Homo sapiens: one gene and its partners. The protein of the gene in region 5 purifies or fractionates together with the protein of the main gene of each other region. This does not show direct contact. Each region holds a gene or a part of one and is shown on either strand. Other genes may lie near its edges.

What was found.
Region 1: the proteins of FBP1 (region 5) and MYO6 purify together in Homo sapiens (affinity purification with mass spectrometry, with the first as the bait; one large-scale study listed by BioGRID). This does not show direct contact.
Region 2: the proteins of FBP1 (region 5) and NDUFS1 purify together in Homo sapiens (affinity purification with mass spectrometry, with the first as the bait; one large-scale study listed by BioGRID). This does not show direct contact.
Region 3: the proteins of FBP1 (region 5) and SAFB purify together in Homo sapiens (affinity purification with mass spectrometry, with the first as the bait; one large-scale study listed by BioGRID). This does not show direct contact.
Region 4: the proteins of FBP1 (region 5) and MYO1C purify together in Homo sapiens (affinity purification with mass spectrometry, with the first as the bait; one large-scale study listed by BioGRID). This does not show direct contact.
Region 6: the proteins of FBP1 (region 5) and UQCRC2 purify together in Homo sapiens (affinity purification with mass spectrometry, with the first as the bait; one large-scale study listed by BioGRID). This does not show direct contact.
Region 7: the proteins of FBP1 (region 5) and MYH10 purify together in Homo sapiens (affinity purification with mass spectrometry, with the first as the bait; one large-scale study listed by BioGRID). This does not show direct contact.

What each region holds. Positions count from the first base shown.
Region 1 is NC_000006.12:75,755,739-75,759,238, forward strand, and holds part of MYO6 (unconventional myosin-VI), read left to right. Parts: intron 1-3,500. UniProt on the Homo sapiens protein: Myosins are actin-based motor molecules with ATPase activity. Unconventional myosins serve in intracellular movements. Myosin 6 is a reverse-direction motor protein that moves towards the minus-end of actin filaments.
Region 2 is NC_000002.12:206,120,758-206,125,435, forward strand, and holds part of NDUFS1 (NADH-ubiquinone oxidoreductase 75 kDa subunit, mitochondrial isoform 1 precursor), read right to left. Parts: intron 3,520-4,678; coding exon 3,428-3,519; 3' UTR 1-3,427.
Region 3 is NC_000019.10:5,649,874-5,654,551, reverse strand, and holds part of SAFB (scaffold attachment factor B1), read right to left. Parts: intron 4,627-4,678; coding exon 4,577-4,626; intron 3,575-4,576; coding exon 3,480-3,574; intron 1,438-3,479; coding exon 1,288-1,437; intron 1,215-1,287; coding exon 1,132-1,214; intron 492-1,131; coding exon 352-491; intron 185-351; coding exon 96-184; intron 1-95. UniProt on the Homo sapiens protein: Binds to scaffold/matrix attachment region (S/MAR) DNA and forms a molecular assembly point to allow the formation of a 'transcriptosomal' complex (consisting of SR proteins and RNA polymerase II) coupling transcription and RNA processing.
Region 4 is NC_000017.11:1,466,050-1,469,394, reverse strand, and holds part of MYO1C (unconventional myosin-Ic), read left to right. Parts: intron 1-898; coding exon 899-992; intron 993-1,086; coding exon 1,087-1,142; intron 1,143-1,271; coding exon 1,272-1,407; intron 1,408-1,484; coding exon 1,485-1,555; intron 1,556-1,817; coding exon 1,818-1,915; intron 1,916-2,053; coding exon 2,054-2,153; intron 2,154-3,345.
Region 5 is NC_000009.12:94,611,372-94,616,049, reverse strand, and holds part of FBP1 (fructose-1,6-bisphosphatase 1), read left to right. Parts: intron 1-4,678. UniProt on the Homo sapiens protein: Catalyzes the hydrolysis of fructose 1,6-bisphosphate to fructose 6-phosphate in the presence of divalent cations, acting as a rate-limiting enzyme in gluconeogenesis. Plays a role in regulating glucose sensing and insulin secretion of pancreatic beta-cells.
Region 6 is NC_000016.10:21,962,754-21,967,431, reverse strand, and holds part of UQCRC2 (cytochrome b-c1 complex subunit 2, mitochondrial precursor), read right to left. Parts: intron 4,672-4,678; coding exon 4,547-4,671; intron 2,025-4,546; coding exon 1,927-2,024; intron 1-1,926. UniProt on the Homo sapiens protein: Component of the ubiquinol-cytochrome c oxidoreductase, a multisubunit transmembrane complex that is part of the mitochondrial electron transport chain which drives oxidative phosphorylation.
Region 7 is NC_000017.11:8,473,176-8,477,853, forward strand, and holds the end of MYH10 (myosin-10), read right to left. Parts: intron 3,874-4,678; coding exon 3,701-3,873; intron 2,774-3,700; coding exon 2,629-2,773; 3' UTR 1,049-2,628; downstream 1-1,048. UniProt on the Homo sapiens protein: Cellular myosin that appears to play a role in cytokinesis, cell shape, and specialized functions such as secretion and capping. Involved with LARP6 in the stabilization of type I collagen mRNAs for CO1A1 and CO1A2.

The DNA of each region.
Region 1 (3,500 bases), on a different chromosome or scaffold from region 5:
TAAAACGTACTGTAGTGTCTACCACGGACCAGGCACTATTCTAAGTTCTAGGGATACAGTGATTAAATTAAGACCAAGCCCCTGTACTGACATTTTATTGTTGTTTTGAATTAAGTTAATTATAGACTCTTCATACTAGGATGTAATCAACAGGGCTGACCCTAAAGTTGGGAAATAGGCAGTTGTCAAAATTGTGCAATTTAAAGGCTACTGCATGACTTACTTGCTCTGGAATATTTCTGACCTATCTGTCGAAGACTCCCAGACTATTGGGTTATGGCGCTGTTACCAACCTGCTTTGATAAATATAAGTATGTTCCATCATTTATCACACTTTTAGCAAAGAAAACTGAGAGAAAATAAATGGGAACTAGAATTGGACACGGTGATGCTTACCTGTAGTCCTAGCTACTCAGGCGGCTGAGGCAGGAGGAATGCTTGAGCCCAGGTGTTTGAGGCCAGCCTAGGCAACATAGCCAGATTCTGTCTCAAAAAAAAAAAACAACAAGCAAGCAAAAAACAAATGGGACTAGGACTGATATGTTGGTGTTGTAAGAGAAGAGGTTAGCAAAGTATAATTTTAATAGCAGCTATTGTTTTTTCTTTTTTTTTGAGACGGAGTCTCGCTCTGTCACCCAGGCTGGAGTGCAGTGGTGCAATCTTGGCTCACTGCAACTTCCGCCTCTCGGGTTCAAGCGATTCCCCTGCCTCAGCCTCCTGAGTAGCCGGGATTACAGGTGCTCACGACCATGCCTGGCTAATTTTTGTATTTGTAGTAGAGGTGGGGTTTCACCATGTTGGCCAGGCTGGTCTCGAACTTCTGACTTCAGGTGATCTGCCCGCCTTCGCCTCCCAAACTGCTGAGATTACAGGCATGAGCCACTGTGCCTGGCCAATAGCAGCTATTGTTTATTGAGCTTTTACTACCATGTCAGATATTATGCCAAGTGAGTATTTTTGTATACATTAGCTCAATCACTGTGTCACCTCAGTGGTGCTGGTGTTATGACCTTCATTTTACAGATTAGGAAACTGAGGGGCAGAGATGTTAAATTTGCTCAAGCTTATTTGGTGGTGCTGGAATTTGGGTCTCTGCTAGTACTAAGCAGGTAGTAGATACTAATGTGGAAAGAGTACTTATGTGTGTTGTGTGTGTATATATATATATATATACACATATATATACACACCATATATAGTGTGTATATATGTGTATATATGTATACACACATATATAGTGTGTATATATGTATACACACATATATAGTGTGTATATATGTATACACACATATATAGTGTGTATATATGTGTATATATGTATACACACATATATAGTGTGTATATATATGTATACGCAATATGTATTGTGTATATATGTGTATATATGTATATACAAGAGTACTTATGTGTGTTGTGTGTGTGTATGTATATACACACATATATACACACATATATTGTGTATATATGTATATAGACATATATACATATACATATATAGACATACATACATATGTGTGTGTATATATGTATATAGACATATACACAATATATGTGTGTGTATGTATACACACACATATACATATAGAACATATATACATATACATATAGAACATCAGAAGTCTGTGTGTGTGTGTGTATATATATGTATACACATATATATACACACACACACATAGAGACAGACTTCTGATGTTCTGCTAGGATGTGTGACACATCACAGAGGTGGGCGACCTTGGTGTGGGAGTGATGGGTGTGGGGAGTCAGGATAGCTTGTTGGGTGAGGGGTGGGAATTGGGGTTGGAAGGAGATGGGAGGGTATTACTTGCCTAACTACTTGGTCGTCAGGCTTAATCCTCTCTCTGACAGCCCTGGGGTTCCAGAGTTGCGTTTAAGCACAGTGCTTTCTTGTCCAGCTCCTGGGTAAGAGGATAGGCAGACCTGAGGCAATCCTGGTTTTGTCACTCATTAACTTGGTCAAATTATTTCATTTCTCTAGGCTTCAGTTTTCTCATCTATAAAATGGAAGTAACAATATTACCTACCTGGTGTGGTTCTTATGAGGATTGAATTAGATAATAATACATGTAAAACACAGATCACACTGGCTAGCACATAGTGTACATTCATTATTATTGTTGTTACTGTGTTTTTTTTTGTCATGTTTAATGTGGAATTTTCATCGAAAAGCAAGAAGAGCAATATATTAGTGATTTGGTTGGAATCTTGAAGTTGGCTTTTTTTTTTTTTTTTTTTTTTTGAGATGGAGTCTCGTTCTGTTGCCCAGGCTGGAGTGCAGTAGCGCGATCTTGGCTCACCACACCTTCTGCCTCCCAGGTTCAAGCAATTCTCCTGCCTCAGCTTCCCGAGTAGCTGGGACTACAGGCACGTGCCACCATGCCCAGCCAATTTTTGTATTTTTAGTAGACACGGGGTTTCACTATGTTGGCAAGCTTCCCTTTTGATTTATGTGCAAACTGGAATTAGAGAACTACTAGCTTAAACTTTTTCTTTATCTTTTGGTTAGGGAGGGCTTCAACAAGATTAACGACAATTTGCTTGGGTTAACCAGGCAGTATGTGGTAGAGGGAAGTGAAATATGTTACCAGAATCTCTTCATTGACTTTTTTTTAAAGCTTATTTGGGGCTTATAGCATTGTATGGAGAAGACAATGCAGTGTTAAATTTCGCACCTAAATTAGATTGTAATGACTGTTTCAGCTTTTTGTTTGTTTGTTTGTTTGAGATGGAGTCTCGCTCTGTCACCCAGGCTGGAGTGCAGTGTTGCCATCTCAGCTCACTGCAAGCTCCGCCTCCTGGGTTCACGCCATTCTCCTGCCTCAGCCTCCCAAGTAGCTGGGACTACAGGCTCCCGCCACCACGCCCAGCTAATTTTTCTTATTTAGTAGAGATGGGGTTTCACTGTGTTAGCCAGGATGGTCTTGCTCTCCTGACCTCGTGATCTGCCCGACTCGGCCTCCCAGAGTGTTGGGATTACAGGCGTGAGCCACCGCGCCTGGCCTGTTTCAGCTTTTTAACTAGCTTCATTCGGAGGTGATTAGTTAATATTAGTTAAAATTGTTAATTTTTAACGATTATACAAATAGTAAAAATGTATAAATACATGTTTGTATAGATCTTTTTTTTTTTTTGAGATGTAGTCTCACCCTGTTGCCCACGCTGGAGTGCAGTGGCATGATCTCAGCTCACTGCAATCTCCCCCTCCCAGGTTCAAGCGATTCTAATGTCTCAGCCTCCTGAGTAGCTGGGATCACAGGCATGTGCCACCATGCCCGGCTAATTTTTATATTTTTAGTGGAGACGGGGTTTCACCATGTTGGCCAGGCTGGTCTCGAACTCCTGACCTCAGCTGAGCCACCCGCCTCAGTCTCCCAAAGTGCTGGGATTACAGGAGTGAGCCACAGCGCCCGGCCGTTTCTATAGATCCGGTCATTTCTATAGATCTTAAAAACTTTCAAAAACTTAGATTTCTTTAGATAATG
Region 2 (4,678 bases), on a different chromosome or scaffold from region 5:
CAGACTAGTCATGTGGCAGAGAAGGAAAAAGCACTTTGAGGAGAGGAATACAAGCAGGCTGCAGGAATACAGTTGTCCATGCTGGACTCAACTCATTTGCTCAAGCAATCCTTGTGCCTCAGCCTCCCAAGTAGCTGGGGCTATAGCTTGTGCCATCATGCTCAGCTATTCACCTTACATTGCTGTCCAAAATGTTTTCATTTGAGGCAACCTGGGATAGTAAAAGTACTTCTAATTAAACACTCCTGCCATTAGTATCTAGCTGTGTAGCCATAAATAAGTTATTTGATATTTCTTGAGTCTCAATTAATACCTACTATTAGCAGAGATTTTGTGAAGAATAGTCTTAATGTATTTAAAGCTTTAATGGCACTTATTTAGAAGGTCCTCAGGAAATGGTATTATTATTCCAAGGTCTTTCTAGATTGCCTTATTCACCTAAAGAGACTTGATCTTGAGCCTTTGTAGATTTTCTCATTGGTGATTCCTTCACTGCTTAGAATGTCATGATTCCACCAGACAGGTTACTCTCATCTACGTGTATTTTTCTTACATCTTTTTCAGTCTATTTTTCTCTAGCAATTATCTTCAATGTTTATGCTTACAATAACCTTAGTATTTGGCATTACGACACTAATATGTGCCCATGAGACAGACGGAGCACTACTTATCCCAGAGGAGGTATTATTTATTTATTTATTTATTTTTTGAGAGGGAGGCTTGTTTCTTCACCCAGGCTGCAGTGCAATGGTGTGATCTCGGCTTACCGCGACCTCCGCCTTGACTCTCAGTTCAAGCGATTTTCCTGCTTCAGCCTCCCCAGTAGCTGGGATTACAGCCATGTGCCACCATGCCTGGCTAATTTTTGTATTTTTAGTAGAGACAGGGTTTCACCACGTTGGCCAGGCTGGTCTCAAACTCCTGACCTCAATGATCTGCCCGCCTCAGCCTGCCAAAGTGCTGGGATTACAGGTGTGAGCCACCGCGCCCGGTCCAGACAAGGTATTTTTTAGAGATTATGATTGTTCACCACAAGCTGCCTAGCAGGTAGCCCAAGGATCCTGGATCAACTTAGCTATATAGCATCTTTTCTATCTGAATGCAGTATTCTCTTACCCACAACCATATGAAGTCTACACATATTCATTAACAGTATTATATAAAATACAAAATTGGGACTATGTCCCCTCAAGATGAGCACAGTGCTAAGAGGTAAGAGATGGGAAGTTTGTATTAAGTTCAAACACTTTTGGCAAGAATTTATACAATTTCAGGTAACTGGGCATTTTAGGCAAAGCACACAACTTCATGATGTATCACTGAGGAGGATAAGATAAACAGTTCTAAAAGCTGGTACAGGTGACAAATTTTGTGCAATTTTAAGTTTTACATTTTTTTGTACAAATAGGATCTTGCTATGCAGTCCAGGCTGGTCTTGAACTCCTGGCCTCAACTGATCTTCCTGCCTTGAACCCCCAAAATGCTGGGCTTACAGGTGTGAGCCACTGCACCTGCTGTTTTTAAAGATATTGTAACATACTATTATTCTAAAACCTTATCCTTTGTTGTATCAGAAAAACGACATCCTAGACTGGGCGCGGTGGCTCACGCCTGTAATCCCAGCACTTTGGGAGGCCAAGGCAGGTAGATCACCTGAGGTTAGGAGTTCAAGACCAGCCTGGCCAAATTGGTGAAACCCTGTCTCTACTAAAAATACAAAAATTAGCCAGGTGTGGTGGCGTGCGCTTGTAATCCCAGCTACCGGGGAGGCTGAGGCAGGAGAATCGCTTGAATCAGGGAGGTGGTGATTGCAGTGAGCCAAGATCATGCCACTGCATTCCAGCCTTGGGTGACAGAGTAAGACTCCATCTCAAAAAAAAAAAAAAAACAAAGGGAAAAAGGGCATCCTATACTTGGGCTGAGTCTTTAGTGAAAGCAGAAAAGAATAAGGATTACAAAACAAATAAATTGTGAACATAGTTTTGTTTGTTTGTTTGAAACAAAGTCTTGCTCTGTTGCCCAGGCTGGAATGCAGTGGCGCAATCACGGCTCACTGCAGCCTCAACCTCCTGGGTCAGGTGATCCTCCCACCTCAGCCTTCCGAGTAGCTGGGACTATAGGTGTACACCACCACACCCAGCTAATTTTTGTATTTTTTGTAGAGATGGGGTTTCACCATGTTGCCCAGACTGGTCTCCAACTGCCTGGGCTCAAGCGATCCACCCACCTTGGCCCCCCAAGTGTTGGGATTACAGGTGTAAGCCACCACACCCAACCTTAGATTAAAAAAAAAAATTATCTATTTTTAATTATCTCCTAATTGTAAAATTTTTACTTCCTTTTTTATTTTTTTAAATTCTCAGTGATCCTTATTCTGATTCCTTTTGGTTTTGACAATTAAAAATTATGAAAGCTGGTTGTTTTGTCTCCTATTGCTGAAATAATTTAGTTGATTTAACACTACAGATGGTGTTAGGATAATGAATACAGAACATCAATGAGAATCTAAATTATATCTCTTGAGACCTCCCTCATTCCAAGGGAGGTCTCATAAGTATACATGCATACATGTATAACTTATAAAAAAAAAAAAGCCACATAAATCACCATGACATTATAGAAGCAGATTCAAGAGAAAATAGAAAAATGTGTTCACCATTAAACTCAATACTAATTTTTAGAAGTAACAACCTATAGAATCAACATTAATGAGACGAAATAATATGTTGCAGTTAAGAACAACAGGCTTTGGAGTAAATAAGAAGTAGGTTTGAGTTGGTGACTTTTGCTGTGTGGCCTTGGGCAAGCTATTTAATATACCTAGGCTTCAGTCTTCATCAGTAAAATGAGATAATACTACTATCTCACAGGGTTGTAGCAAGAACAAAAGAAGATAATGCATGTAAAACCAGAGTGCTTAGCACATATAATAAAGCTAAATTATCATTAGCCATTGTTACTATGATTATTATTAATTATAATTATCCTAGATACATATCTGAGCATGATTATGTATTTTTCCTATTTACCCAGCTTGACAAGGTGCTTAAATCTTTTCTTTAGCACTAGAAAAAAGTAGGTTTTAATTGAACCTCTTTTCATTTCATCCATTTTACAGACAAATTATTTATGAAGATAAGCCAACAACTCATAATTTAAGGATCTCTTTATGTTCGTCACAAAGGTTATCAATGCTTTTAAGAGCATCTGCATAGTTTTGTTATTTAACCTTTACACACAATACATGTTTTTCAAACTGCAAAGTTGATAACTAATATCATTTTCAAATAGGCATAGTATAACCTTAAATATTACATGATTCAAATTATTATTATTTTTTTTTACAAAGAAATAAACCTGTAAAGGATCACTGCACTACAGTTGTCCATTAATTATCTGCGGCAAAACTGGGATCCTAGTAGAAGCTTCAGCATATGGATGGTTCCTCTACTGCCTGGGCACCCTCTGTGACAGCTTTGACACATTTGGCCATTGTCTGTGAGGCTCTGCTAATTGAATCTGAAAGATATTAAGAAAATGTCATTTTGATAATACAACTTTTTAAAAAGCACATACTAAAACTTTAATGGTGCACATATTCAGGAGGAAAAAAGATTATAAGGCCCTATGCAAGTATATATAATTATATGTAACCAACAGATTCCAACGATAAACCCCTTACTGGCCACATGCTTTCAATAACTATCCCTGGAAACAATCAAATAACTATAGAGCAGCTAGACAGTGCACCAGTATGCAGCCATTAAAAAATTATAGAAAAGTATTAAAAACATAGGAAAGGCCAGGCGCGGTGGCTCACACCTGTAATCCCAGCACTTTGGGAGGCCGAGGCAGGTGGATCACGAGGTCAGGAGATTGAGACCATCCTGGCTAACACAGTGAAACCCCATCTCTACTAAAAATACAAAAAATTAGCCAGGTGTTGTGGCATATGCCTGTAGTCCCAGCTACTCGGGAGTCTGAGGCAGGAGAATCGTGTGAACCTAGGAGGCGGAGCTTGCAGTGAGCCGAGATCACACCACTGCAATCTAGCCTGGGCGACAGAGCAAGACTCTTGTCTCAAAAAAATAAATAAATAAATAAATATAGGAAAAATGTGTACAATACTATTATTGAAAAAGGTTACAAAACAGCATATGTACTAAAATACATTGAATTGTCCACTTCATGAGTAAATTTTAGGGTACATGAATTATATTTCAATAAAGCTATCAACCCCCAAGTGAATAATCTCACTTTTTTTTTTTTAAAGAGACCAGATCTGACTATGTTGCCCAGGCTGGTCTGAAACTCCTGGATTCAAGCCATCTGCCCCCCTCAGCCTCCCAAAATGCTGGAATTACAGGCATGAGCCACTGCACCAGGCCTAATCTCACCTTCTGTTTCACTAAAAAATATATAGGCCAGGGGTGGTGGCTCACATCTGTAGTCCCAGCACTTTGGGAGGCTGAGGTGGGTGGACTGCTTGAGTCCAGGAGTTTGAGATCTGCCTGGGTAACATGGCGAAACCCCATCTCTACAAAAAATACAAAAATTAGCTGGATGTGGTGGTATGCGCCTATAGTCCTAGCTACCGAGGAGGCTGAGGTGGGAGGATCACTTCAGCTCAGGAGGCAGAGGTTGCAGCAAGCCAAGATTGTGCCACTGCACTTCAGCC
Region 3 (4,678 bases), on a different chromosome or scaffold from region 5:
TTTTTCAAATGAAGCTTAGTAATTCCCTAAGACGCACACAGAAATACAAACTGAAAAGAAGAGCAAAATACCCTAGTTAGAAAATTAATACTCACTCTCTCTTTGGACCCGGACGTTTTTACACTAATCACAGGCACCCCTTTGGATTTATCCATTACTACAGTCCGTTCGGTCCCTCGACTTCCTACAGAAAAGACGGGGAAAGTGTAAGTGGAAAACCAAGAATACCCAGATGAGAAAAACCCTCTGCAACATGAATCCAGTTTCCGTTGCCAGCTAATCACAGCAAACTAACAAACTCCACTAGGCACAGAAACAAGACAGAATCTCCTGGGCTCATGAGCTGCCCACCTGACTTTGTGGCTCGAGATCGCTCTGAGGGGCCAGGTTTCTGATCATCTTGGTCCTTACTCTTTTCTCCACTTCCGTCGTCACCCTTCTTAGCATCATCTTTTCTGTCACATTTATCATCCCTCTTAAGGTTTGTAGATCTATAAAAAACAGACATGTTGGCTGGGCGTGGTGGCTCATGCCTGTATTCCCAGCACTTTGGGGGGATGAGGCGGGCGGATCACATGAGACCGGGAGTTCGAGACCAGCCTGGCCAACATGGTGAAACCCCATCTCTACTAAAACCACAAATGGGCATGGCTATAATCCAAGCAAATCGGGAGGCTGAGGCATGAGAATTGGTTGAGCCAGGGAGGTGGAGGTTCAATGAAAAGAGATCTTGCCACTGCACACCAGCCTGGGCAACAGAGTGAGATTCTGTTTAAAACACCCTGCCCCGGCCAGGCATGGTGGCTCACGCCTGTAATCCGAGCACTTTGGGAGGCCGAGGCAGGCGGATCACAAGGTCAGGAGTTCAAGACCAGCCTGGCCAATATGGTGAAACCCCATCTCTACTGAAAATACAAAAATTAGCCGGGTGTGGTGGTGCACACCTTAGTCCCAGATACTCAGGAGGCTGAGGCAGGAGAATTGCTTGAACCCAGGAGGTGGAGTTGAGGTGAGCCGAGATCACACCACTGCACTCCAGTCTGGGCGACAGAGCGCGACTCCATCTCAAAAACAAAACAACAACAACAAAAAACACCCTGCCCCTTTAATTTAGCCAGGAAGGAGGGGTACCTGTCACTGTTGCTCGACTTCTCCTTTTTCCCGTCACTGTCTCTTTTGTCAGAGGTTTTCTTTCCCACAGGTTCATTTTTGGCCTGAAAAAGAGAATCAAGTATTACCCCCATTTCCTAATGTGGGCTATATCCTGGGAAGAAAACGGCCACTCACTTTCTCCACGGAGATCATCTTTCCGTGGAGCTCCGTCTTGTGCAGGTGGTTAATGCATTTTGTGGCCTCTTCTGCTGTGGACATCGTGACAAAACCGTAACAGCGAGCTCCAGGACTCCGGGCATTTGTCACAACCTTGGCGCCCACCACCTCAAAGGAAAGCAGGCAAATATGACTCAGACATGAAGCCCACTGAGCGGGGCATGGGGATATGAACACCCCACAGGGAAGTCTGCTCATCAGGGGTCCGACAAGTGTTAGACTGGGGAGGACAATGCTACTAATGCTTCTGTTTCGCTGTTGTTCCTCCAAGGACCTCTGGCCAGTTCTAATCGCTCATCTAGTTCCTCAAGGGGGCCAGGAGGGCAATGTAGGGGAACAGACGAAAGGGAAATCAAACAGGGTTCTGCCAGTGTTCCTTTAATATGGTCTAAAACTTGTGAAGAAATGATTCCAAATATACAGTCATGCTACGTAGGTGGTAAATTATGAAGTGATGTAATGTGGGCAAAAAAAGAAAAAAGAAAAAAAAAAGACTTCGGCACAGACTGATGCAAGGAAAGGTCTGTGAGCCGTGCTCTGGAACTCAGATCTGCCCTATCATTGACTGTAACAAAACGCAGTGATGTGTTTCAGTTACTGTAGACACATCCTTTCCAGTCTACCTGGTTTTCTCGACTCCAGCAGGATGCAGTTAGGGTCGCCCTTTGACGGCAGAAGACACCATGGCTCAGGAAAAGCCCTGCAGCAGCCAGTGGCCGAGGCTGGTAATCATGCTCATCATGCCACATGGAATCCTAGTCCCAGAGGACATTCTCAGAGAGGCCCGGTCCTCTAATTAACCCACATCAGGCCTGCTGCGCTCAAGACACTACAGTCTCCAGGGCAACACTTCCCCACTGAGCACACCCACCCGCTGGGGGACGCCATGGAGTCAGGAAAGGGGGTCTAGTAGGGGAGACTTGGCGCAGGTGTTGCCAGCCACACACCTTGTATCACTGAGGCTCAAGAAGCCCTTAGTTATGTCCGTAATAATGACATAATTAGTTTTATCCTTTTTTTTTTTCTTTTTTTAAGATGGAGTCTTGCTCTGTCCCAGGCTGGAGTGCAGTGGCACGGTCTCGGGTCACTGCAACCTCCACCTCCTGGGTTCAAGTTGTTATCCTGCCTTAGCGTCCCAAGTACCTGGGATTACAGGCATGCGCCACCACGCCCGGCTAATTTCTGTACTTTTAGCAGAGACAGGCTTCACCATACTGGCCAAGCTGGTCTCAAACTCCTGACCTCGTGATCCACCCACCTCGGCCTCCCAAAGTGCTGGAATTACAGGCGTGAGCCACCACACCCAGCCTGTTTTATCCTCTTTTAAGTTCTTCGAAGTCAGTATCAGGGAAAACACTTGGTTTTCTATATTGCAATGTGTTGAACCCTCACTGTGTAACACAAAGGATTGGACTCCTTCCTTTGGTAGTCCCCGAAACCGACTCTGAGAGAGACGAGGAGCCCTGAATGCAGGAGGCTGTTTGGGAGGCAAGTCTGGGAAACACCAGGGAGGAAGGGAGTGAGAAAGCACAGGGAGGAGGGCCAGGCGGCTGCGCTGGGCACTGCAGGTAGGGGGCTGGTGCCACCAGCCCCACCTTCACGGGCTCAGGAAAGGCAGGTGCTGCAGACAAGAGGCCACTAGAACTGCCCCCAGTGGTGAACTGAGGCAGCAACTTTGAGAGCCCCCAGCTGCTGAGGTGAGGTTCAGTCAATGGACCCAAGACACCCGTGGTGAGGACCCCTATCATCAGACTCCAGGGTCCCTGTTCTGAGTTCTGAGTTCCAGCATCACGAACACTGTTCTAAGAACACTGCTGTCTCCCAGACATGCTGACCAGCACCCCACCAGCCAACCCTGGCAGCCCAGCCTGAGTGCGACGTCCTGAGGACACAGAAATGGATCCACGAGCCATCACAGGGAAGGGGGCAAGCTCGCAGAGAAGGGAGGGAAATACAGTGGTGATGTGGGCTCTGGAAGCTTCCACACCACTCTCACCTCTACCTGTGGACGGGCAGACCCTCCCCAGCCATTAGCAAGTGTAAGCTCCTTGGTATCTCTCAAAGAACTCACTGAGGGGAGAGGACCTCCATGTAAAGGCCACACAACGCTGGTTTCAAAGTATCTTCTCCAGAAAAGCTCTGGCACTTACCTTCCCATATTTGCTGAAAAGATTCTTCAAATCTGTAGCTCTGGTTGTAGAAGAGAGTCCACTAACCCAGAAATTTCTACCACAACTGCTGCGACCTATTTCAAAAGAAAATTCTAGTAAAAACCCAAATACCCACAAGATCTTGAGTCTTAGAGACAACCTTTCCAAAAGAGACATGGTTCCCATTTTTCCTGAGGCAGTGGCAGCACTAAAAGCCAAATGGGGCTGTGGGCCTGACCACTATCCTCACCAAGAGCCTCCAGTGCAACACCAGGCCCAGCAGCACTACCACAGGGCCCGTCACAATACTGAGTGGGGCTATTGGGACAATGTGAGGTTTCCTAAGAAAGTTAGCAATTGCGGGCCGGGTGTGGTGGCTCACGCCTGTAATCCCAGCACTTTGGGAGGCTGAGGTGGGCGAATCACGAGGTCAAGAGTTCGAGACCAGCCTGGCCAACATGGTGAAACCCCATGTCTACTAAAAATACAAAAAATCAGCTGGGTGTGGTGGCGGGCGCTTATAATCCCAGCTACTCAGGAGGCTGAGGCAGGAGAATCTCTAGAACCCGGGAGTCAGAGGTTGCAGTGAGCTGAGATCGCGCCACTGCACTCCAGCCTGGGCAACAGAACAAGACTCTGTCTCAAAAAAAGTTAGCGATCGCTTAATTACAGGAGGAAGTGCAGTGTGCAACGGCCATGTAGCAGAACAGTCAACCTTGGTGTCAACAATGCACTGTTTCTCTTTCCACGTATAGCTCTGTATCTATCCCATGTTTTTACTCCTTTAGAACACTGATTAAGAAGGAATTTGGTAGGGTAAAATTATTTCTCAGTTAATGCATTTAATGAAGGGTTACAGGATGAATGTGCTCCCAACACAAGGATCTGCACCAAATCAGCCTGTTAACTCTTAGGACCTGGTATGCTTCCTACAACCCAGAACCTGTAGCGGTAACAGCAGAGAAGGAGAAAGACTGCACAAACGTCTCAGGAGTCTCCTGGGTAAGGAGCATAGCACGCGATGAACCAGAATCAAATACCCGCCACTGCCCAGGCCATACATGCTCCAAGGGACTGGTGTCGCCGAGGTGACCTACCCTTTTCCTCTTTGGAAAGCCTTTTTGTATCCGAGTCATCTTCGGGAGAACTAGAGACAAAAGACAATGTCACTCCACAAGGAAGCAGCATGGAGGAAACAA
Region 4 (3,345 bases), on a different chromosome or scaffold from region 5:
TACCGTATTTACCCTGGTCTACTCTATTTACCCCAGTCTACCGTATTTACCCCGCCTACCGTATTTATCTCGGTCTACTGTATTTACCCCACCTACCGTATTTACCCCAGTCTACTCTATTTACCGCAATCTACTGTATTTACCCCGTCTATAGTATTGACCCCGGTCTACCGTATTTTGCCCTGCCTACCATATTTACCCCGCCTACCGTATTTACCCCGGTCTACTCTGTTTACCCCGGTCTGCTCTATTTACCCCGGTCTGCTCTATTTACCCTAGTCTACCGTATTTACCCCGGTCTACCGGTGACCTCAGTTGGATGCCAGGCCCTGCTGGGCCTCGTGTAGGAAGTGGACACTGGAGTACAGCTGGGGTGGCCAGTAGGGTTCATATCGTGGGCCAACTGCCCTTGATTGGTAGAGACTGCTCAGAACCCTGTGTTGAAAAGTCTGCGTCTTCACTCGGGTCGATTGGTGATATCTGCCCTGATTACAGGCATTGGTTGATGTGCCGTGTTTTTGCCAACTCAGTATTGGATGATGCTAAAGGGCCCACCCAGTAACCTTGAGTATTAGTGATCTGCTGCTTACAAGACCCCAAGCTGGAGCTGAGTCTCAGGGCCACCAGGGCCTGATGGGGTGGGGAAGCATTACCAAGGCCAGTTTCAAAACCCCGCAGTGCCTTCATGACCCCGCTGGGGAGTGCTTGGTGGCGGCAGAGGGTCAGGAAGTGGAGGGTTGATGGGCGTGTGGGGGGCAGGGCTCAGCCTCCTGGTGCTGAGCCAGAGAGGGACCAGCAAGCGGGTGAGGGAGGCTGTCTCAGGTCCTAAGGCTGGCTCTGCCCCCCCAAGATGGTGCTCCCCACCATGACACTCTCCTCACCCCCCTTGTCTCCTCAGCTGCAGCAGAAGGCCGTGGCTAGTGAGATCTTCAAGGGCAAGAAGGATAATTACCCTCAGAGTGTACCCAGGCTCTTCATCAGCACTCGGCTTGGTGAGCCCCTGACTTTCCAGCACTCAGACCTTTCGTCACCATCCTGGTCCCCCATTGCCTCCACTGACTTCCCTCCCCGCCATCTGAGTTGCAGGTACAGATGAGATCAGCCCCCGAGTGCTGCAGGCCTTGGGCTCTGAGCCCATTCAGGTAAGAGCCTGCCTGCAGCCCTGAGTCCAGCAGCACGGTGCTACTGCCTGAGAGCTGAAGGCAGGTCAGGGCAGGGGCGGAGCCTTGGGAGCCTCTCCCCAGCCCCTTCAGCCTGGCCTCTGTCCCCAGTATGCGGTGCCTGTTGTGAAATACGACCGCAAGGGCTACAAGCCTCGCTCCCGGCAGCTGCTGCTCACGCCCAACGCCGTCGTCATCGTGGAGGACGCCAAAGTCAAGCAGAGGATTGATTACGCCAACCTGACCGGTCAGCCAGGGTCCAGGGCTGCAGGGGGAGGGCCCTGCTCTGACCCTCGACCTCTGACCTTTGCCCTCTCCCCTCAGGAATCTCTGTCAGCAGCCTGAGCGACAGTCTTTTTGTGCTTCATGTACAGCGTGCGGACAATAAGCAAAAGGTGCCTTTTCATGGATGGGGAGGAGTGGTGGGGGATGGGGGAGGTAGATGGGGAGGTGGGGTGGATGGGGGAATAGGGGGTGTGGGGGTGGATGGGGAGGTGGGAGGGTGGATGGGGGTAGATTGGGGGGTCAGGAGGTGGATGGGGAGGTGGGAGGGTGGATGGGGGTGGATTTGGGGGTCAGGAGGTGGATGGGGAGGTGGGGCGGGGGTTCCTCAAGTTCTGGGCAGGGCCTGACCCCTCCTCCTGCCTGGCCCCCCAGGGAGATGTGGTGCTGCAGAGTGACCACGTGATTGAGACGCTGACCAAGACAGCCCTCAGTGCCAACCGCGTGAACAGCATCAACATCAACCAGGGCAGGTGAGGCGCGGGCGGCCCCCGGGGACAGGGCGGGGGTGGCGAGGGGGCTGTGTGGGCACCCAGGGACAGGGTGGGGGTCCACCTTAGGGTTGGGGGTCTGCCTCCATGGAAAAACCCTCACCCACCCCGTTCCCCCAGCATCACGTTTGCAGGGGGCCCCGGCAGGGATGGCACCATTGACTTCACACCCGGCTCGGAGCTGCTCATCACCAAGGCCAAGAACGGGCACCTGGCTGTGGTGAGTGGGGCCTGCTTTCCCGCTTATGGCCTGGCTGTGATAGCCAAGCCTTCCTTGGCTGTGCTTGGCAGAGCCCAGGCACCTCACCATGGGCCTTCATCCAGAGGCCATCATACCACCTCTTCCATCCCTTGGCCCACCCATGAGGGCCAGAGAGAGCCCCTCAGTGCAGAAAGTTGTAAAGGTGGCAGCACGGTGGCTCATGCCTATAATCCCAGCACTTTGGGAGGCTGAGGCGGGTGGATCACCAGAGGCCAGGAGTTTGAAACCAGCCTGGCCAACATGGCAAAACCCATCTACTAAAAAAATGCAAAAGGCTGGGTGCAGTGGCTCACACCTTTAATCCCAGCACTTTGGGAGGCCGAGGTGTGTGGATCACCCGAGATCAGGAGTTCGAGACCAGCCTGGCCAACATCGTGAAACCCCATCTCTACTAATAACACAAAAATTAGCCGGGCGTGGTGGTGCACGCCTGTAATACCAGCTACTAGTGGGGGCTGAGGCGGGAGAATTGCTTGAACCCAGGAGGTGGAGATTGCAGTGAGCTGATATCATGCCACTGCACTCCAGGCCTGGGGAACAGAGTGAGATGTCATCTCAAAAAAAAAAAAAAAGGCCAGGCACAGTGGCTCACGCCTGTAATCCCAGCACTTTGGGAGGCGAAGGCAAGTGGATCACCTGAGGTTGGGAGTTCGAAACCAGCCTGACCAACTGGAGAAACCCCATCTCTACTAAAATACAAAATTAGCCGAGTGTGGTGGCGCATGCCTGTAATCCCAGCTACTTGGGAGGCTGAGGCAGGAGAATCGCTTAAACCCGGGAGGTGGAGGTTGCGGTGAGCCGAGATTGCGCCATTACACTCTACCCTGGGCAACAAGAGCAAAATTCCATCTCAGAATTTGTATACAAAAAAGTTAGCCTGGTGTGGTGGCGTATGCCTGTAGTCCCAGTTGCTCAGAAGCCTGAGATGAGAGGATTGCTTGAGCCCAGGAGGTTGAGGCTGCAATGAGACCCAAGATCTCACCACTGCACTCCAGCCTGGGTGACAAAATGAGACCCTGTCTCAAAAAAAAAAAAAAAAAAAAAAAGGCAGCACGGCAATGCAGGGAAGATACATAGGCTGATTGGGGGTGCCAGGAGGGAGGACAGGCTCACAGGCTCACGCTGGCCAGGGCGGTGGGCATTCCTATGG
Region 5 (4,678 bases):
GAGACCATCCTGGCTAACACGGTGAAACCCCGTCTCTACTAAAAATTACAAAAAATTAACTGGGCATGGTGGCGGGCGCCTGTAGTCCCAGGTACTCAGGAGGCTGAGGCAGGAGAATGGCATGAACCTGGGAGGTGGAGGTTGCAGTGAGCCAAGATCGCGCTACTGGACTCCAGTCCGGGTGACAGAGCTAGACTCCGTCTCAAAAAAAAAAAAAAAGAACTGAGACCCAAATTTGCACTTTATCTCTAAAAGTGACTTATTGTCTAGTATTATACATAATTTCCTTTCAAATATGTGAAAAGTAGAGCCCCCATGGCACAGTTATCTTTGGTCATTGGAACGTATTTTGCTTTTTATCTTGGGTAAGAGGCAGATCCACATCACAATCAGTTTGAGGAATAGAAGATTCAAATTCTCATACTAGAAAGGCAAAAAGGCAACAATTTATCCATTTTCCAAGTCATGCCAAGGAACATACCATTTCTGTTGTAGACATGGAAGAATGCAATTTTCCTTGCAAAATATCAAATCCACAGAATAGCAGGAGAGGTTTGTAGCAAAATTCTTCCTTGCAGAGGAAGACATCTGGCTAATGTGTTAACCACAACTAAAGCAGTGTTGATGTTTACTAAGCCCATTCTCCATCTCAGTCCCCCCAAATAATACTTTTTAAGGAAAAAAAACCTGGGAAATTGAGAGACATTGGCTATCAACTAAAAAAAAAAAATCAAGCCAGCTTGCAACAGCAGCTTGAATTATGAATGACAGAATTCTCAACAATAAGGCTCGGCTGTCTTCTCAATGAACCAGAAGTGACTTTTTTAAAAGACAGAAAGTGGGGCCTGGTGCGGTGGCTCACCCCGGTAATCCCAGCACTTTGGGAGGCCCAGGCGGGCGGATCACGAGGTCAGGAGATTGCGACCATCCTGGCTAACACGGTGAAACCCCATCTCCACCAAAAATACAAAAAATCAGCCGGGTGTGGTGGCAGGCCCCTGTAGTCCCAGCTACCTGGGAGGCTGAGGCAGGAGAATGGTGTGAACCTGGGAGGCGGAGCTTGCAGTGAGCCGAGATCGCACCACTGCACTCCAGCCTGGGTGACAGAGCAAGACTCTGTCTCAAAAAATAAATAAATAAATTAATTAATTAATAAAAAGAAAGTGATGATGAGTATGACACAGACCTCTAAGTCATTTCAGTTTTTTGAAGCCTTATTGATTGCTTGAAACAGCTGAAACCAGTTGAGGGCTCATGAGGCATAAACATAGACATCTATAATGCTTCCAAGGGGATTTTTCCTGCTTTCTGCAGAGATGATTGTTGGCTAGAATCGCACCATGGTGCCCACGCCCAGTGGGGCAGCATCAGTAACTGTGACCCTGCCATGGTGACCAGGCCTTGCTACACGATTCCTGGAAAGGCACGTGGAAGGATGTGTGGTCATGTTGCATGCAGCTCCTGCCACAGCATCTTTCCAGGGCCTACCGACTACTACTATTTCTTTTTTGAGACAGAGTCTCTCTCTGTCGCCCAGGCTGGAGTGCAGTGGCGCCATCTCAGCTCCCTGCGACCTCTGCCTCCCTGGTTCAAGCGATTTTCCTGCCTCAGCCTCCTGAGTAGCTGGGACTACAGGCGCCCACCACCACGCTTGGCTAATTTTTTGTATTTTTAGTAGAGACGGGGTTTCATTGTTTTAGCCAGGATGGTCTCGATCTCCTGACCTCGTGATCCGCCCACCTCGGCCTCCCAAAGTGCTGGAATTACAGGCGTGAGCCACCGCGCCCGGCCACGACTACTACTATTCTTTCTCTTTCTTCTCCCTGTCCCTCCCCCTTCTCCCTCCCTCCTCCTCCCCCTGCTCCTCCTCGTCCCCCCCTTCCTCCTCTGCCTTCTTCCCCTCCTCCTTCTCCCTCCTCTTCTTCTTCCTTTTCTTCCTTCTTCCTTTTTCTTTCTTTTTTTCTTTTTTTGAGATGGAGTCTCCTGTGTCGCCCAGGCTGGAGTGCAGTAGCACGATCTCGGCTCACTGCAAGCCCTGCCTCCCGGGTTCACGCCATTCTCCTGCCTCAGCCTCCCGAGTAGCTGGGACTACAGGCGCCCGCCACCACGCTTGGCTAATTTTTTTTGTATTTTTAGTAGAGACGGGGTTTCACCGTGTGTTAGCCAGGATGGTGGCAATCTCCTGACCTCGTGATCCGCCCGCCTCGGCCTCCCAAAGTGCTAGGATTACAGGCGTGAGCCACTGCGTCCGGCCTTTTTTTTTTCTTCTTTTTTTTCTTTTTTTTGAGACAAGGTCTCACTCTGTCGCCCAGGCTGAGAGCAGTGGCGCCATCATGGCTCACTGCAGCCTCACCCTCCCGGGTTTAAGCCATCCTCCTACCTCAGCCTCCTGAGTGGCTGGGACTACAGGTGCACCACCACACCTGGCTAATTTTTGTATTGTCTGTAGAGACAAGGGGGTCTCGCTATGTTTCCCAGGCTGGTGTTGAACTCCTGGGCTGAGGCGATCCTCCCGCCTCGACCTCCCAAAGTGTTGGGATTACGGGCATGAGCCACGGTGCCTGGCCCCACCAGTGTCTGGCTGGAGACATCCTGACAGGGCGAATTCTCCTGCAATGCTGGGTAACCATCATGGTTTGTCCAAATATTGAGTTGAAATCTGTTTCATTTTGCTCACTTGGCTGTTTAGAGCATAAGAAAATAAGATTCTTTGACATGTTTGGAAACAGTGTTTCTGCCCTCCCAATAATGCCCACCACACCCACTTTTTTTCCCTTTAAGCTGAACATCTTTCACAGGAGAGGGATCTGAGACTTCTCTCTAGCCTGATCACCCTCTACTGGACATACTCTAACTTGCAATGTCCTTTACAGCTCCCACCACAAAAGCAGAGATTCAGAAAAGTAGGGTTTGGTTTCTGCTCCGAGGAAAGACCACTGTGGACGTGACAGTCTCTCCTCCCCCAGGCCCTCCGTTTCTGTGCCTACTTCTCCTTATGTGATGACATGGAATAATATGTGATGACATGGAGCCAGTGCCTACAGCAGGTGGTGGCCTCAGATAGGCAGAGAAAGGAAGGGTCCAGAGGTTTCTGATTTTGCCAAGTGCTCCGTGCTCATTGGTCCCTGGGCATCTGCAGGAGAATGGAATATGTTTCCCTTGGAGGAAAGGCATGCATTGCTGAGCATTTGGAGGAAGGAATTAGAAAGGGGGCTGATCCCAGCTCTTTGGGAGGCTGAGGCAGGCGGATCACCTGAGGTCCAGAGTTCGAGACCATCTTGGCCAACATGGTGAAACCCCATCTCTACTAAAAATAAAAAAAAAAATTAGCCAGGCGTGGTGGTGGGCGCCTGTAATCCCAGCTACTTGGGAGGCTGAGGCAGGAGAATCACTTGAACCCAAGAGGTGGAGGTTGTAGTGAGCCAAGATTGTGCCACTGCACTCCAGCCTGGCGATAGAGCAAGACTCTGTCTCCAAAAAAAAAAAAAAAAAAAAAAAAATTGGGGGCTGGGCTAGAAAAGAATTCCTCCAAATCCATGGCTCAGTGGGATAATTTTCTCTTCGTTTTGAGTATGTGGGTCATAGACAAGTATTACTATTATTTTTTATTCCGTGCGAGGAAGTGTATAAATGTAGAGCATTTGGTGACCGTATGTCAGGGAAGGGCTGTTTACTTTTGCACCTTTGCCACAGGCCGGCACGGATGGTTCTGGGCGAGGTGAATCTCTGGGAAAAGGGGCCTTTATTGGCAGAGAACTGGTTACTTGAAGCCTGCAGTGGGAGGAGAGGAGAGTTAGAGTCCTGAGTCCACCCACTGTGTACCTGGCTTCAAGGGAAGCTGGTGATTGTTAAAATGAGCCTCTGACAGGCAGCGCATGTTGACAAAGGCCATTAATTTCATTTTTCAAGGTTGTGCATTGGCAAAACTTGGAATTATTCCCTCAAAGTTTTGATCCTGTAAGTTTAGTCTGTGTTTAGCTCCACTGTACTGTCTGGTGAATACAAACCAAACTGAATCAAATAACCCAGTGCAACCAGCTAACTAACCACCTCCCCAGGTGAAAACTAGGAGGGGCAGGGAAGCGGTGGAAAGAAATGGGTTTGTGGTTTTCTGGTTTGTGGTTTTCTCATTTATATGAGTAGTTGTTATGCTTGAATGTGAAGTTCTTACACTTGAGTGTGAAGGTCACCCCTTCACATTGCATAGTGCAATGCAGATTCTCAGGCCCCGCCATGGAAAGTCTGACAGTGTGTCTAGGCTGTAGCCCCAGAATATGCATTTCTTTTCTTTTTCTTAAAGAGGCAGGTTCTCATTCTGTCACCCAGGCATGTGCAGTGGAATGATAATGGCTCACTGCAGCCTCGACCTCCCAGGTTCAAGTGATCCTCCAGCCTCAGCCTCCTTAGTAGCCACAGGCACATGCCACCATGCCTGGCTAATTAAAAAAAAATTTTTTTTCGTAGAGATGGGGTCTCCCAGTGTTGCACAAACTGGTCTCAAACTCCTTGCCTCAAATGATCCTCCTACCTTAGCCTCCCAAAGTGCTGGGATTATAGGGATGAGTCATGACCCCGGCTGTGAATGTGCATTTTTAATAAATATCCCAGGTGATTCTAATGCAGGTGCTCTGTGGGCCACCCTTTTGAAAGTTATGGGAAGAAATTACCTGGAATGTTT
Region 6 (4,678 bases), on a different chromosome or scaffold from region 5:
ACTTCTATGTAAAAAGTACAAATATACAGCACATAAACTCTATCTGTGGTATTAAAAGTAAGAGGTTTAGAAAAAAATGGCTAGAAAGGCTCCTCAGGAAGGAAAGTGATAACGTTTTGAGAATCACTGGGCTAAAGTAATGAAACTGAACTTTTAATCAATTTATCATAATCCGTGCCCTAAAATGAATGGTGTCTGTACCTATGGAGTAACCTTGGAAAGTCATACTCTTTTTCTATTGATGTTTTTCTATTGATGCTGCCATTGCTCCAAGTATTCTAGCGCCAATTTCTTTAGAGTTTCCTTTAGCCTAGGGACACATTTAAAAAATACTATTAACTTTGAGATAACCAAGTTATCACAGTTAACATCTTGATATTTGTCTATAATGCATACATACATACCTTTTATTAAAAAAAAGGGACCTTTTGGTATGTCCTAATCCATAAATTGCTTTATGTGACAACATGCTGTGGAGTTTTATGTATCAACTAATATTTTTGAATGGTTGAATACTGTTCCATTCTATAAGTTATTTAACTAGTTCCCTAATGCTGGATATTAACTTGTTTCTAATTTTTCACAATTATAAACTAGTATTACAATAGCCATCCTTGTAGATAAACTTTTGCTAAGTTTTAGCTAACTTAATGACACATCTTCATGAGGGTGAATTTGATTTCTGAAAAATTTCAAAACTCATTAGAGTCCAGTCTTATGAAAACGGCTGCCTGTTCAAGTTGGATGATGTAAGTTAAAATTTCTAAATAAAAGTGCCATATGAATGAAAGGCATCAAACTGTTAATTGATAAGTCAAAAAGAGCAAGGGATACAGTTTAGTTTTCTGTAACAGCTAACTAAGAATAAAACGAGAATAAAAACCTTGAATTTTTGAGTCAGATATACTTTGAAGGTGTTGATAATTACAAATTTTTCTCTTAATGTCTTTTGATAAAATTTGTTTTTGGGTCTGGGTGGTAGGAATAGGAAATTAAGATTATACGCACATATCTACACTTGTAGATTTAGCATTCAATGTTTCATGTTTTGGAAACAAAGTTCTAAGATGCACATATGGCTGTGGCATGTGACAAACCCCTATAGCCAGCAAACGGAGGCTGGTGTGCTGAAGAACGTGAATGAGTGAGCGAGGATGGAACAGGAGCTAAGGAAGTGGGCTCAAGTCTTATTTACAAATTCAGAGAGACCAAAGAGTTTTAGTCAAAGGACCTATTTTATATATATGTATACACACACACATATATATATATTTTTTTTTTGTAGAGACAGGGTCTTGCTATGTTGCCCAGGCTGGTCTTGAACTCCTGGCCTCAAGTGATCCCTCTGTCTTGGCCTCCCAAAGTGCTGAGATTACACGCATGAGCCACTGGGCCCAGCCCCTATTATGATACTTAAACATTTAAATACTGTTTAAAAAAGATACACAGGCTGGGTGCAATGGCTCATGCCTGTAATCCCAGCACTTTGAGAGGCATAGGCAGAAGGACTGCTTGAGCTTAAGAGTTCAAGACCAGCCTAGGCAACACAGCAAGACCCCGTATTTAAAACAAACAAACAAAAAAGATACATACACACAGAAAACGGTTTAGAAGAAAATATACCAGGTATTAACACTGAGTGCCTTTAGGTATGTGAGATGTTTTCTTTCCCTTCATTTTGTTTGATTTTACTTTTTAATTTTTCTGTAATGATCATGTCCCTTTAGTCATGAAAACATTTCTTAAAGGAGACACAAAAATTGTTCAGATAAAATTTTAGTTAAAAAGCAGGTGGATGAAAAAGCTAGCACGCTGAATTTCTTAAAGTTAGAAGATAAAAGGAAAAATTAACAAACAAACCTGAAATGGGAGATGTTCAATTTAATGTGAAAAACAAGCACATTTCAAAATATGTTTTATTGGTACCTCCTCTGATGTCACTTTTCCAATCCTATAGTCAGGACAATACAAGGGATTAGCCAAGGCATTCCGGTAAGCTGCTGCATGCAAATTTTCAATGACATCTGTGAGATAAGTGAAGAAGCATTTAGGGAAATGCACTTTCAGTAAAGACAACATTTTTAAAACCTAGAAAGCAACAAGCCTATACAAATTTGGTCATCTTCTGGCATTCATATGTTAAGAGGACTTAAAATTTATTATTATTTAACCTCTAGTAACTGCCAGTTTCTGCCAGTAGAATGTGCTGAGAAAAAAATAAAAAAGATTACATGGCAGCAGCTTCTATATACTGGAGTCCACCTAAACCACTTTTCTAACTTTAACCTAGCTGGTATCACTTGGAAGGTATACTGGCCTGGGTTTTGGGAAGTCCCCATCTAGTTATGGTTCTGCCGCCATCTTGCCATGTGACCTTGGACAAGTCATTTAATCTGAATTTTACTTACTCCTAGGTTTCCTCTCTAGGTAATAAGGAGATTGTCAGGTAGCTTTCAGGGGACCAATGGGAGCTTCCACTGGGACTTACTCCTCTGTGGTGCTTGGTGCTTTCCCTGCTTTCTTGCTTCAATGCCTTTTTGCCTGCAGTATTTCCTTCAGTTGCTCATTACCTGGCAACTTGCCTATGCGAGGCACTGTGCTAGGTGCTAGAAATACAGAGATGTGGAACATACAATGCCTGCCCTCAAATTTTAAGAGGAAAAACTGTGAAATAAAGTATTATGGGTGCAATGTCGGCAGTGTGTCAAAAGTGCAGTAGAGGTACAAGGCAAGGGCAGTGGGAATTGGAAAACAATTAATACAAGTAATATGTGGGATCCATCTTACAGAATGAGCTGGTGTTTCCCAGGGGAAATCATTTGGGAACAGCATTTTAGGCACAGGAAGCAGACAAAACAAAGGCATAAAGTATAACAATAATTTGATTCAAATGGGAATTGCAGCTGGAAGGAGAAGAGGGTAGAGCATAAAGTAAGAGAAGTGGGCTGGGGTAAGATCACGCAAGGCCATATACGTATATGCTGTTTGGACTTTATCCCATAGATAATAAGAAGGCTTACTTTCACGTCAGAAGGATCACTGTAATGGCCGTGTGGGAGATGGACTCAAGACGTAAACCTGGAGGCTGACACCAGCCAGGAGACTACACAGTAACTGTTCAGGCAGAATAGATGCAGGCTGGTGCCTCACTGCCGCCAGTGGGGAAGAAGCCACTCTGGACACATAGGTCATCTTTTCTAAAATTGTACTATTCTATCTATTTCTTCAGTAGAAATCCTGAGCAACAAAGATAATGCTCCTCTGTGACACCAAGCATCATCATGAAATAACATCAGTCCCCAGGCCTGCATGTGGAGGGGAGCCTGTCCCATGCTGAACCACTGAGTTGAGCTATTTCTGCTCTTCCTGCACATTTCTGCTCCCACCAGAAGTTGTATGACTCCCAAGAGTCAGCGGCGCTTGCTTACAGACTTGTATTACCAGTTGTACTTGTCAAGATTATATAATTAGACATTATATAAACATAAAATATGAATGCAAAAAAGATTCCTATTAAAAAAATTAAGTTACTTACTTTGGAAAGACTCAATAAAGAGGAGATGGCTAAACAATAATAGCAATACAATAGTAAGCAATAATAGCAGCAGCAATAAACTGGTGTAGGATTTGGGGTAAGCAAAACAACTCTTAAAAATCACTAGGGGTCAGGCACAGTGGCTCACGCCTGTAATCCCAGCACTTTGGGAAGCTGAGGTGGGAGGATCACTTCAGCCCAGGAGTTCGAGACCAGCCTGGGCAATAGAGTGAGACCTCATCTCTATAAAAAAATAAAAATAAAAATTAGCAGGGTGCGGTGGTGTGTGCCTGTAGTCCCAGCTACTCAGGAGGCTGAGGTAGGAGGATCACCTGAGTCCAGAAGGTTCAGGCTGCAGTGAGATTGTGCCACTGCACTCCAGCCTGGGCAACAAGCAACACCCTGTCTCAAAAACAAACAAACAAACAAACAAAAACAAAACATTGGGAAGGAAACAGGAAAAACTTCTAGGATCTTACAAACAATTTACTTACCATCAAACATGAAAAATGATTATAAATGTTTAGAAACAAAAGAATAATAAATCTAAATAACAAATTTTTGAAAAAGATATTTTCAAATTCAAGGAGTAAAACATTTGGCCAGGCATGGTGGCTCACACCTGTAACACCAGCACTTTGGGAGGCTGAGGTGGGTGGATCACTTGAGGCCAGGAATTCAAGACTGAACTCCAGTCTGACCAACATGGCAAAACCCTGTTTCTACTAAAAATACAAAAAATTAGCCAGGTGTGGTGGTGCACACCTATAATTCCAGCTGCTCAGGAGGCTGAGGCAGGAGAATTGCTTGAACCCGGGAGCTGGAGGTTGCAGTGAGCCAAGATCGTGCCACTGCACTCCAGCCTGGGTGACAGAGTGAGACTCTGTCTCAAAACAATAAATAAATAAAAATAAAAATAAAAATTTTGACAGCAATTTTTTTTCTTCTATAAATTGATCTTCTAAAAAACCCAGTATCTTAGAATCAAATGTGATCTGGAAATGTACTTACGAGTCTGCGGATTCTGAAAGGCCACAGCTTTGTCAATCTTTAGCTGAGGCTGAAGGTCAGCTACTTCCCAACGACGAAATTCTGGTGCTGTGGTGACATTGAGCAGGAACTCCATTAGAATATCACTACAGA
Region 7 (4,678 bases), on a different chromosome or scaffold from region 5:
AGTAGGGAAGAATTCTTTTTTTTTTTGAGACGGAGTCGCCCTTCTCTGTCACCCAGGCTGGAGTGCAGTGGTGTGATCTCGGCTCACTGCAGCCTCCACCTCCCAGGTTCAAGTGATTTTCATGCCTCAGCCCCCCAAGTAGCTGGGACTACAGGTGTGCACCACCACACCTGGCTAATTTTTGTATTTTTAGTAGAGACGGTGTTTCACCATGTTGGCCAGGCTGGATTCGAACTTCTGACCTCAAATGATCCACCTGCTTTGGCCTCCCAAAGTGCCGGGATTACAGGCGTGAGCACCATGCCCAGCCCAGAGTTCTTACTTTTTGAGAAAAACAAGCCTCTGAATTCTGTACACTCTTGGATAAGATACTGGATGTGGGGGTGGGAGCCCTGCTGAAGCACCATACCTGTGACTCACCTTTCCTCTCCTATGGTAGTGGCACAGGAGGAAGAGGGCACTTCGGCCCATTTCACACGTTTCTACTGCTGCCAAGAAGCCTAGTCATAGACCCCTTACCCCCAGAACCAGTCTAACCGGAGAATATTATGGAACAAGAAATCGGCATTCTCTGTTTGATTCTGTGCTGCCCTAGTATTTCTCTCATCCTAGTTGGCCCGCACTAGAGAGGCTGCCCTTGGCCTCATCACTGAATCCTCCAAAAGCATCTTCAATGCGTGTCTGCCTGAAAATGCAGCCTGAAATGTCCTGGACCCCTGAAAATGTCCTAACCCAGCAGTGAGCTTCATTGGCTGGTGACCAGAGCCCTCCTAAATCACTCCCTTGACAGGTGGGCCAGCTCCTGCCTTTGGGTGGTCTTTCCCTTCCTAGTGCGTGTGCATCCTGTGAGGCACTGGCAGGAACAAGAGTTGGAGCCAGGACTGGCCTGAGAATTATTCTGTCGTCTGACCTGGGAGACAGCGCCCTCAGCAAAAAGGGCCTGGCGCCATCATTTGAAGTTGGTGTGTAGCACCCACCCTCCAGTCAGATCACAGATGGGAAATCGAGAACAGAAGGTGAGAAAACAGATTCCACGTTCACATGATTATTCTTGTTTATTGAGGTCTCTTTATTCTCCACGGGTGCTTTTTTCTTCAAGTAAACAGAGCAGGCGCAAATATCTATAATGAATAAATTTATTGTCTTACAAAAATCATTGTCTAGAAATATGGGAATACAAGAAAAGATATTTGCGGTCAGGTGTCTGGTGGTCAACAGCCAGTACAGTTCATAAAGGGGGAAAATCCAAGATTCCAAACCCACAGGACAAATTCTTCCTAATAGATGTTAAAGCTTTTAACCCAAAAGGTTTGTGTTTTCAAGCACATTGCAGAGGATCAAGGATTTAGAATTAACACTGATTCATTGTCACTGAATGTCTGTAATACCACTTTGACTAGAGAGGTACATGATATGAAGCACAGTCAAAACTGAATACATTAAATTGTTATAGAGGCGAATGATATATTCAACATTGTCTTAGTACTGTAGTGTCTAAGGCACTTTCCGTAATGTCAGTTTGCTTAACTACCAACCAAAAACAGGATGCTAAGTGTTCACTGTAACACTGTCCAAAGGGAAGGGAGAAGGAAAAATGAAGGAGTCACACCCACTGGCATGTCAACATTCAGGAAGATGGCATCTGTTCTGGAGGCTCCATAAACCTCATTGACAAACTTGGAACAAGCCTCGGACACAAAACCAATATTCCCATTTTGGGCTCAAAGCAGCGGCTGAATTTGCAAGGTCAGCATGAGGGCCCGGCTGGCGATGGGGAGGGGCCTTCCACCAGCTCGGCTTAGGGGTCCACGGCTGCTTGCTCCTGACGTGAGGAGGGCGCCGGCAGAGCCAGGCGGTTCGGGAGACCATCTGGAAGTCTACATGATCCATGGCTGCCACCTGGGGCCTCAGCTGCAGTGTGGCCACTATCCCTTCTATGCACAGACCAGCCCTCGCCAAGGCCAGTTCACATGAGTAGATGCGGGACACCATCGACTCGAGGGGCAGGGCCCCCCTTGGGGGATGGACATGGTAACCCCAAATGGGTGTTGCTTCCGATCCAGCCCACCCCTCCTACTCTTTCCAAAGCCCCTTTCACAGTTTGCTCACTGAAATAGCATTGATCATTATTTGAAGGAAATGAGAGAGACAAGTGCAGTTTAGAGTCCACAGTGGTCTAGGAGACTTGATGTGGCTGAGGAGTCGGGGGCCACGTGAACACAGAACTAGGTTACCTGTCTGTATGACAGAGAGCATGCAGAGCGACTGAGTGACGACCACGGCGCTGCCCCAATAACCCAGCGACCCGCAACCAAGGGCCTGGAGTTTGTTTTAAAAAGGGTCTTACCATGTTTTATAAAATGGTCTCTTGATGACTATATGGAAAATAGATGCAATGATGAAACAATCTGTTTAATATATGTGTCCTGTGTGTGTCTATATATAAAAAGGGGAGCAATTGTACCTAAGTCTGAAGCAGGATACAGTATGCATAGGCTGGAGAGCCTTAAGACACAGTTGATCTTTCAGGAAGGAATCCCGTAGCTTGCCAATTTCCGAAATCTGCAGGAGGCCCCGGGTGCATTCCTAACTGTCCCACTGTATTGCCTCCTCTGGCTTCCTGCAACTTTACTCTGACTGGGGTGGCTGCGTCTCGTTGACATCACTGGTCTTACTTTCTGTGTCATCGTCGGAGAGCTCCAGGGAAGCTCCTTCAAGGTGCAGCTGGCGCCGGCCAGATCGGCTGGAAGAGAAGCTGATGGGGCCACCCCGCCTGGAGAACACAGGAAGCAGATGTGTGTGGGTAAACAGACAGGAGCACATGGCTGTCAATATGTTCAACCACTCAATGCCACGGAACCTTCCCCTTGCACCCCCTCCTCGGACACACGACCTTGTGGGGGTGGCGGTACGATGGGGAAGGACTGCGTGCTTTTCTGCCTCTCCCACAACCCTGCCTGCAGAGTACGCGAAGCAGGGTCCTTGGAGAACTGGGGAGGACTTGATTCAGCCTAGGACTGTGTGATGGAAATGGTAAGGAAGACGGATTAAGGCCAAGCTCTACCTGCTAACCAGGGAATCAGCCAGATAGCAAAGTGGGCCACATAGGGACTCTGTTGCATATTCTTTGTTTCGGCGTTTTTATAACCATTTAAAAATGTAGAAACCATGCTTAGTTTGATGGCTGTATAAAAGCAGGGTATGCACCAAATCTGCCCATTGGCCAGATGTGCTGAAACCTCCGCCGACCTGGTCTTCTGGGGCAGAGACTTCAGCTGTAGCTCTCTCACGCTCTGCCCTCTCACTGGTACAGAGCAGATCCATTGTGGTGAGGAGGACGGTGCTGAGGAGGGCTGATGGCACCAGGTCCCAGGAGGAGCTCCTGCCCTGCTTTTTAAGAGAGGCTGGGAGCTCACTTCACTAATGGATATCTGGACAGGGATGGATGCCTGACCCAGCTCCAGCCTGGTGTGGTGGATTAGTGTGGTCCTCTAGTGACTGGCAATGAATAGGGCCGCCTCCTCTTTTATTCTCCCCAAGGACGACTATAAAGGTCAGAAATCTTAAATGAAGTGGTTCGGGAGAAAGAATGGGTCACTGGGTATGGATCTAAGTAAACTTCCTCTGACCAGCTGCACCCCGAGCCTAAGCTAACCCACAAAGCAGCTGCCTGTCAGCTCGGGGCCGCATGCCTGCTCACCTCAGCCGGTTCTTCAGGGTGCTGACCTCGCGGCTCAGGCCCTCGTTGGCCTCGGTGGCATCATCCAGTTCCCGCTGGAGTTTACGCCGAGATGCGTTGGCACGCGTCGCTTCTTCTTCTGCTTCCTCCAGCTGGCGTTTAAGCTGCTTCATCCGAGCGTTGGCCTTCTCCATCTTGGGGAGGGTACATGAACCAAAACAAACCAAACTGGTGAATCCAGTGTCGGCCTCTCTGTACCCCGAGCGTGGCAGTGTGGGGCTCTGCCTGTTACCCTTGTGAGCACGCGTGTACACGGATGTACACGCGTGCCTGGGGGCTGGTCGGAGGCTCTGTAACCGGCCTGCCGCTCTCAGCAAAGCTAGCATCTACAAAGCACACTAGGCCAAAAGAAATGAAAAAGTACTCAAGACTCTGTTTTTACCAGTGAGTTTTCTGCAGAAAAATGACAGCGTTTACTGTCTTCACACACGTGACCTAGGGGACTGAAAGGGAATTGCTATTCTTGCAAAACGTGGAAGAACCAGCAATGTGGGACAATCCCCAGCCCAGAAGATGGTACAATGCATCTTTACACCTCCTTTCAAGGATGGGCATCTCAGATACTAGACTTGGATTCAAGCAGAAAGCCACCCTGGGATGACATGCCACAGAACTAAGAGCCTCCCTTTTGGACCCTTCATTCCTGAGCCACACAGGCACTGGTCAGTGCTTCGTGGGTCCAGCGCACACCACCCTCAACTGTGCTCCGTGTTGCTAGGCCCCAAGGGTGGGGGTGGGAAGGGAAGGCCAGGTTGCCTGACTGAATGAATGAAGTTGGGGAGGGTTCGGGCCAAAGGCAGTGAAATCCTCAGATCCATCCACCTTTCTGGCCAGTGTCTGCAGTGTGAAGTCTCACCAGGCAGAGGGCAGGGAGCGGGAGGGAGGGTATAGCTGCCCACGCTGCAATCAGGGCAGGCCTGACCCACAGTTCAAAGTCCT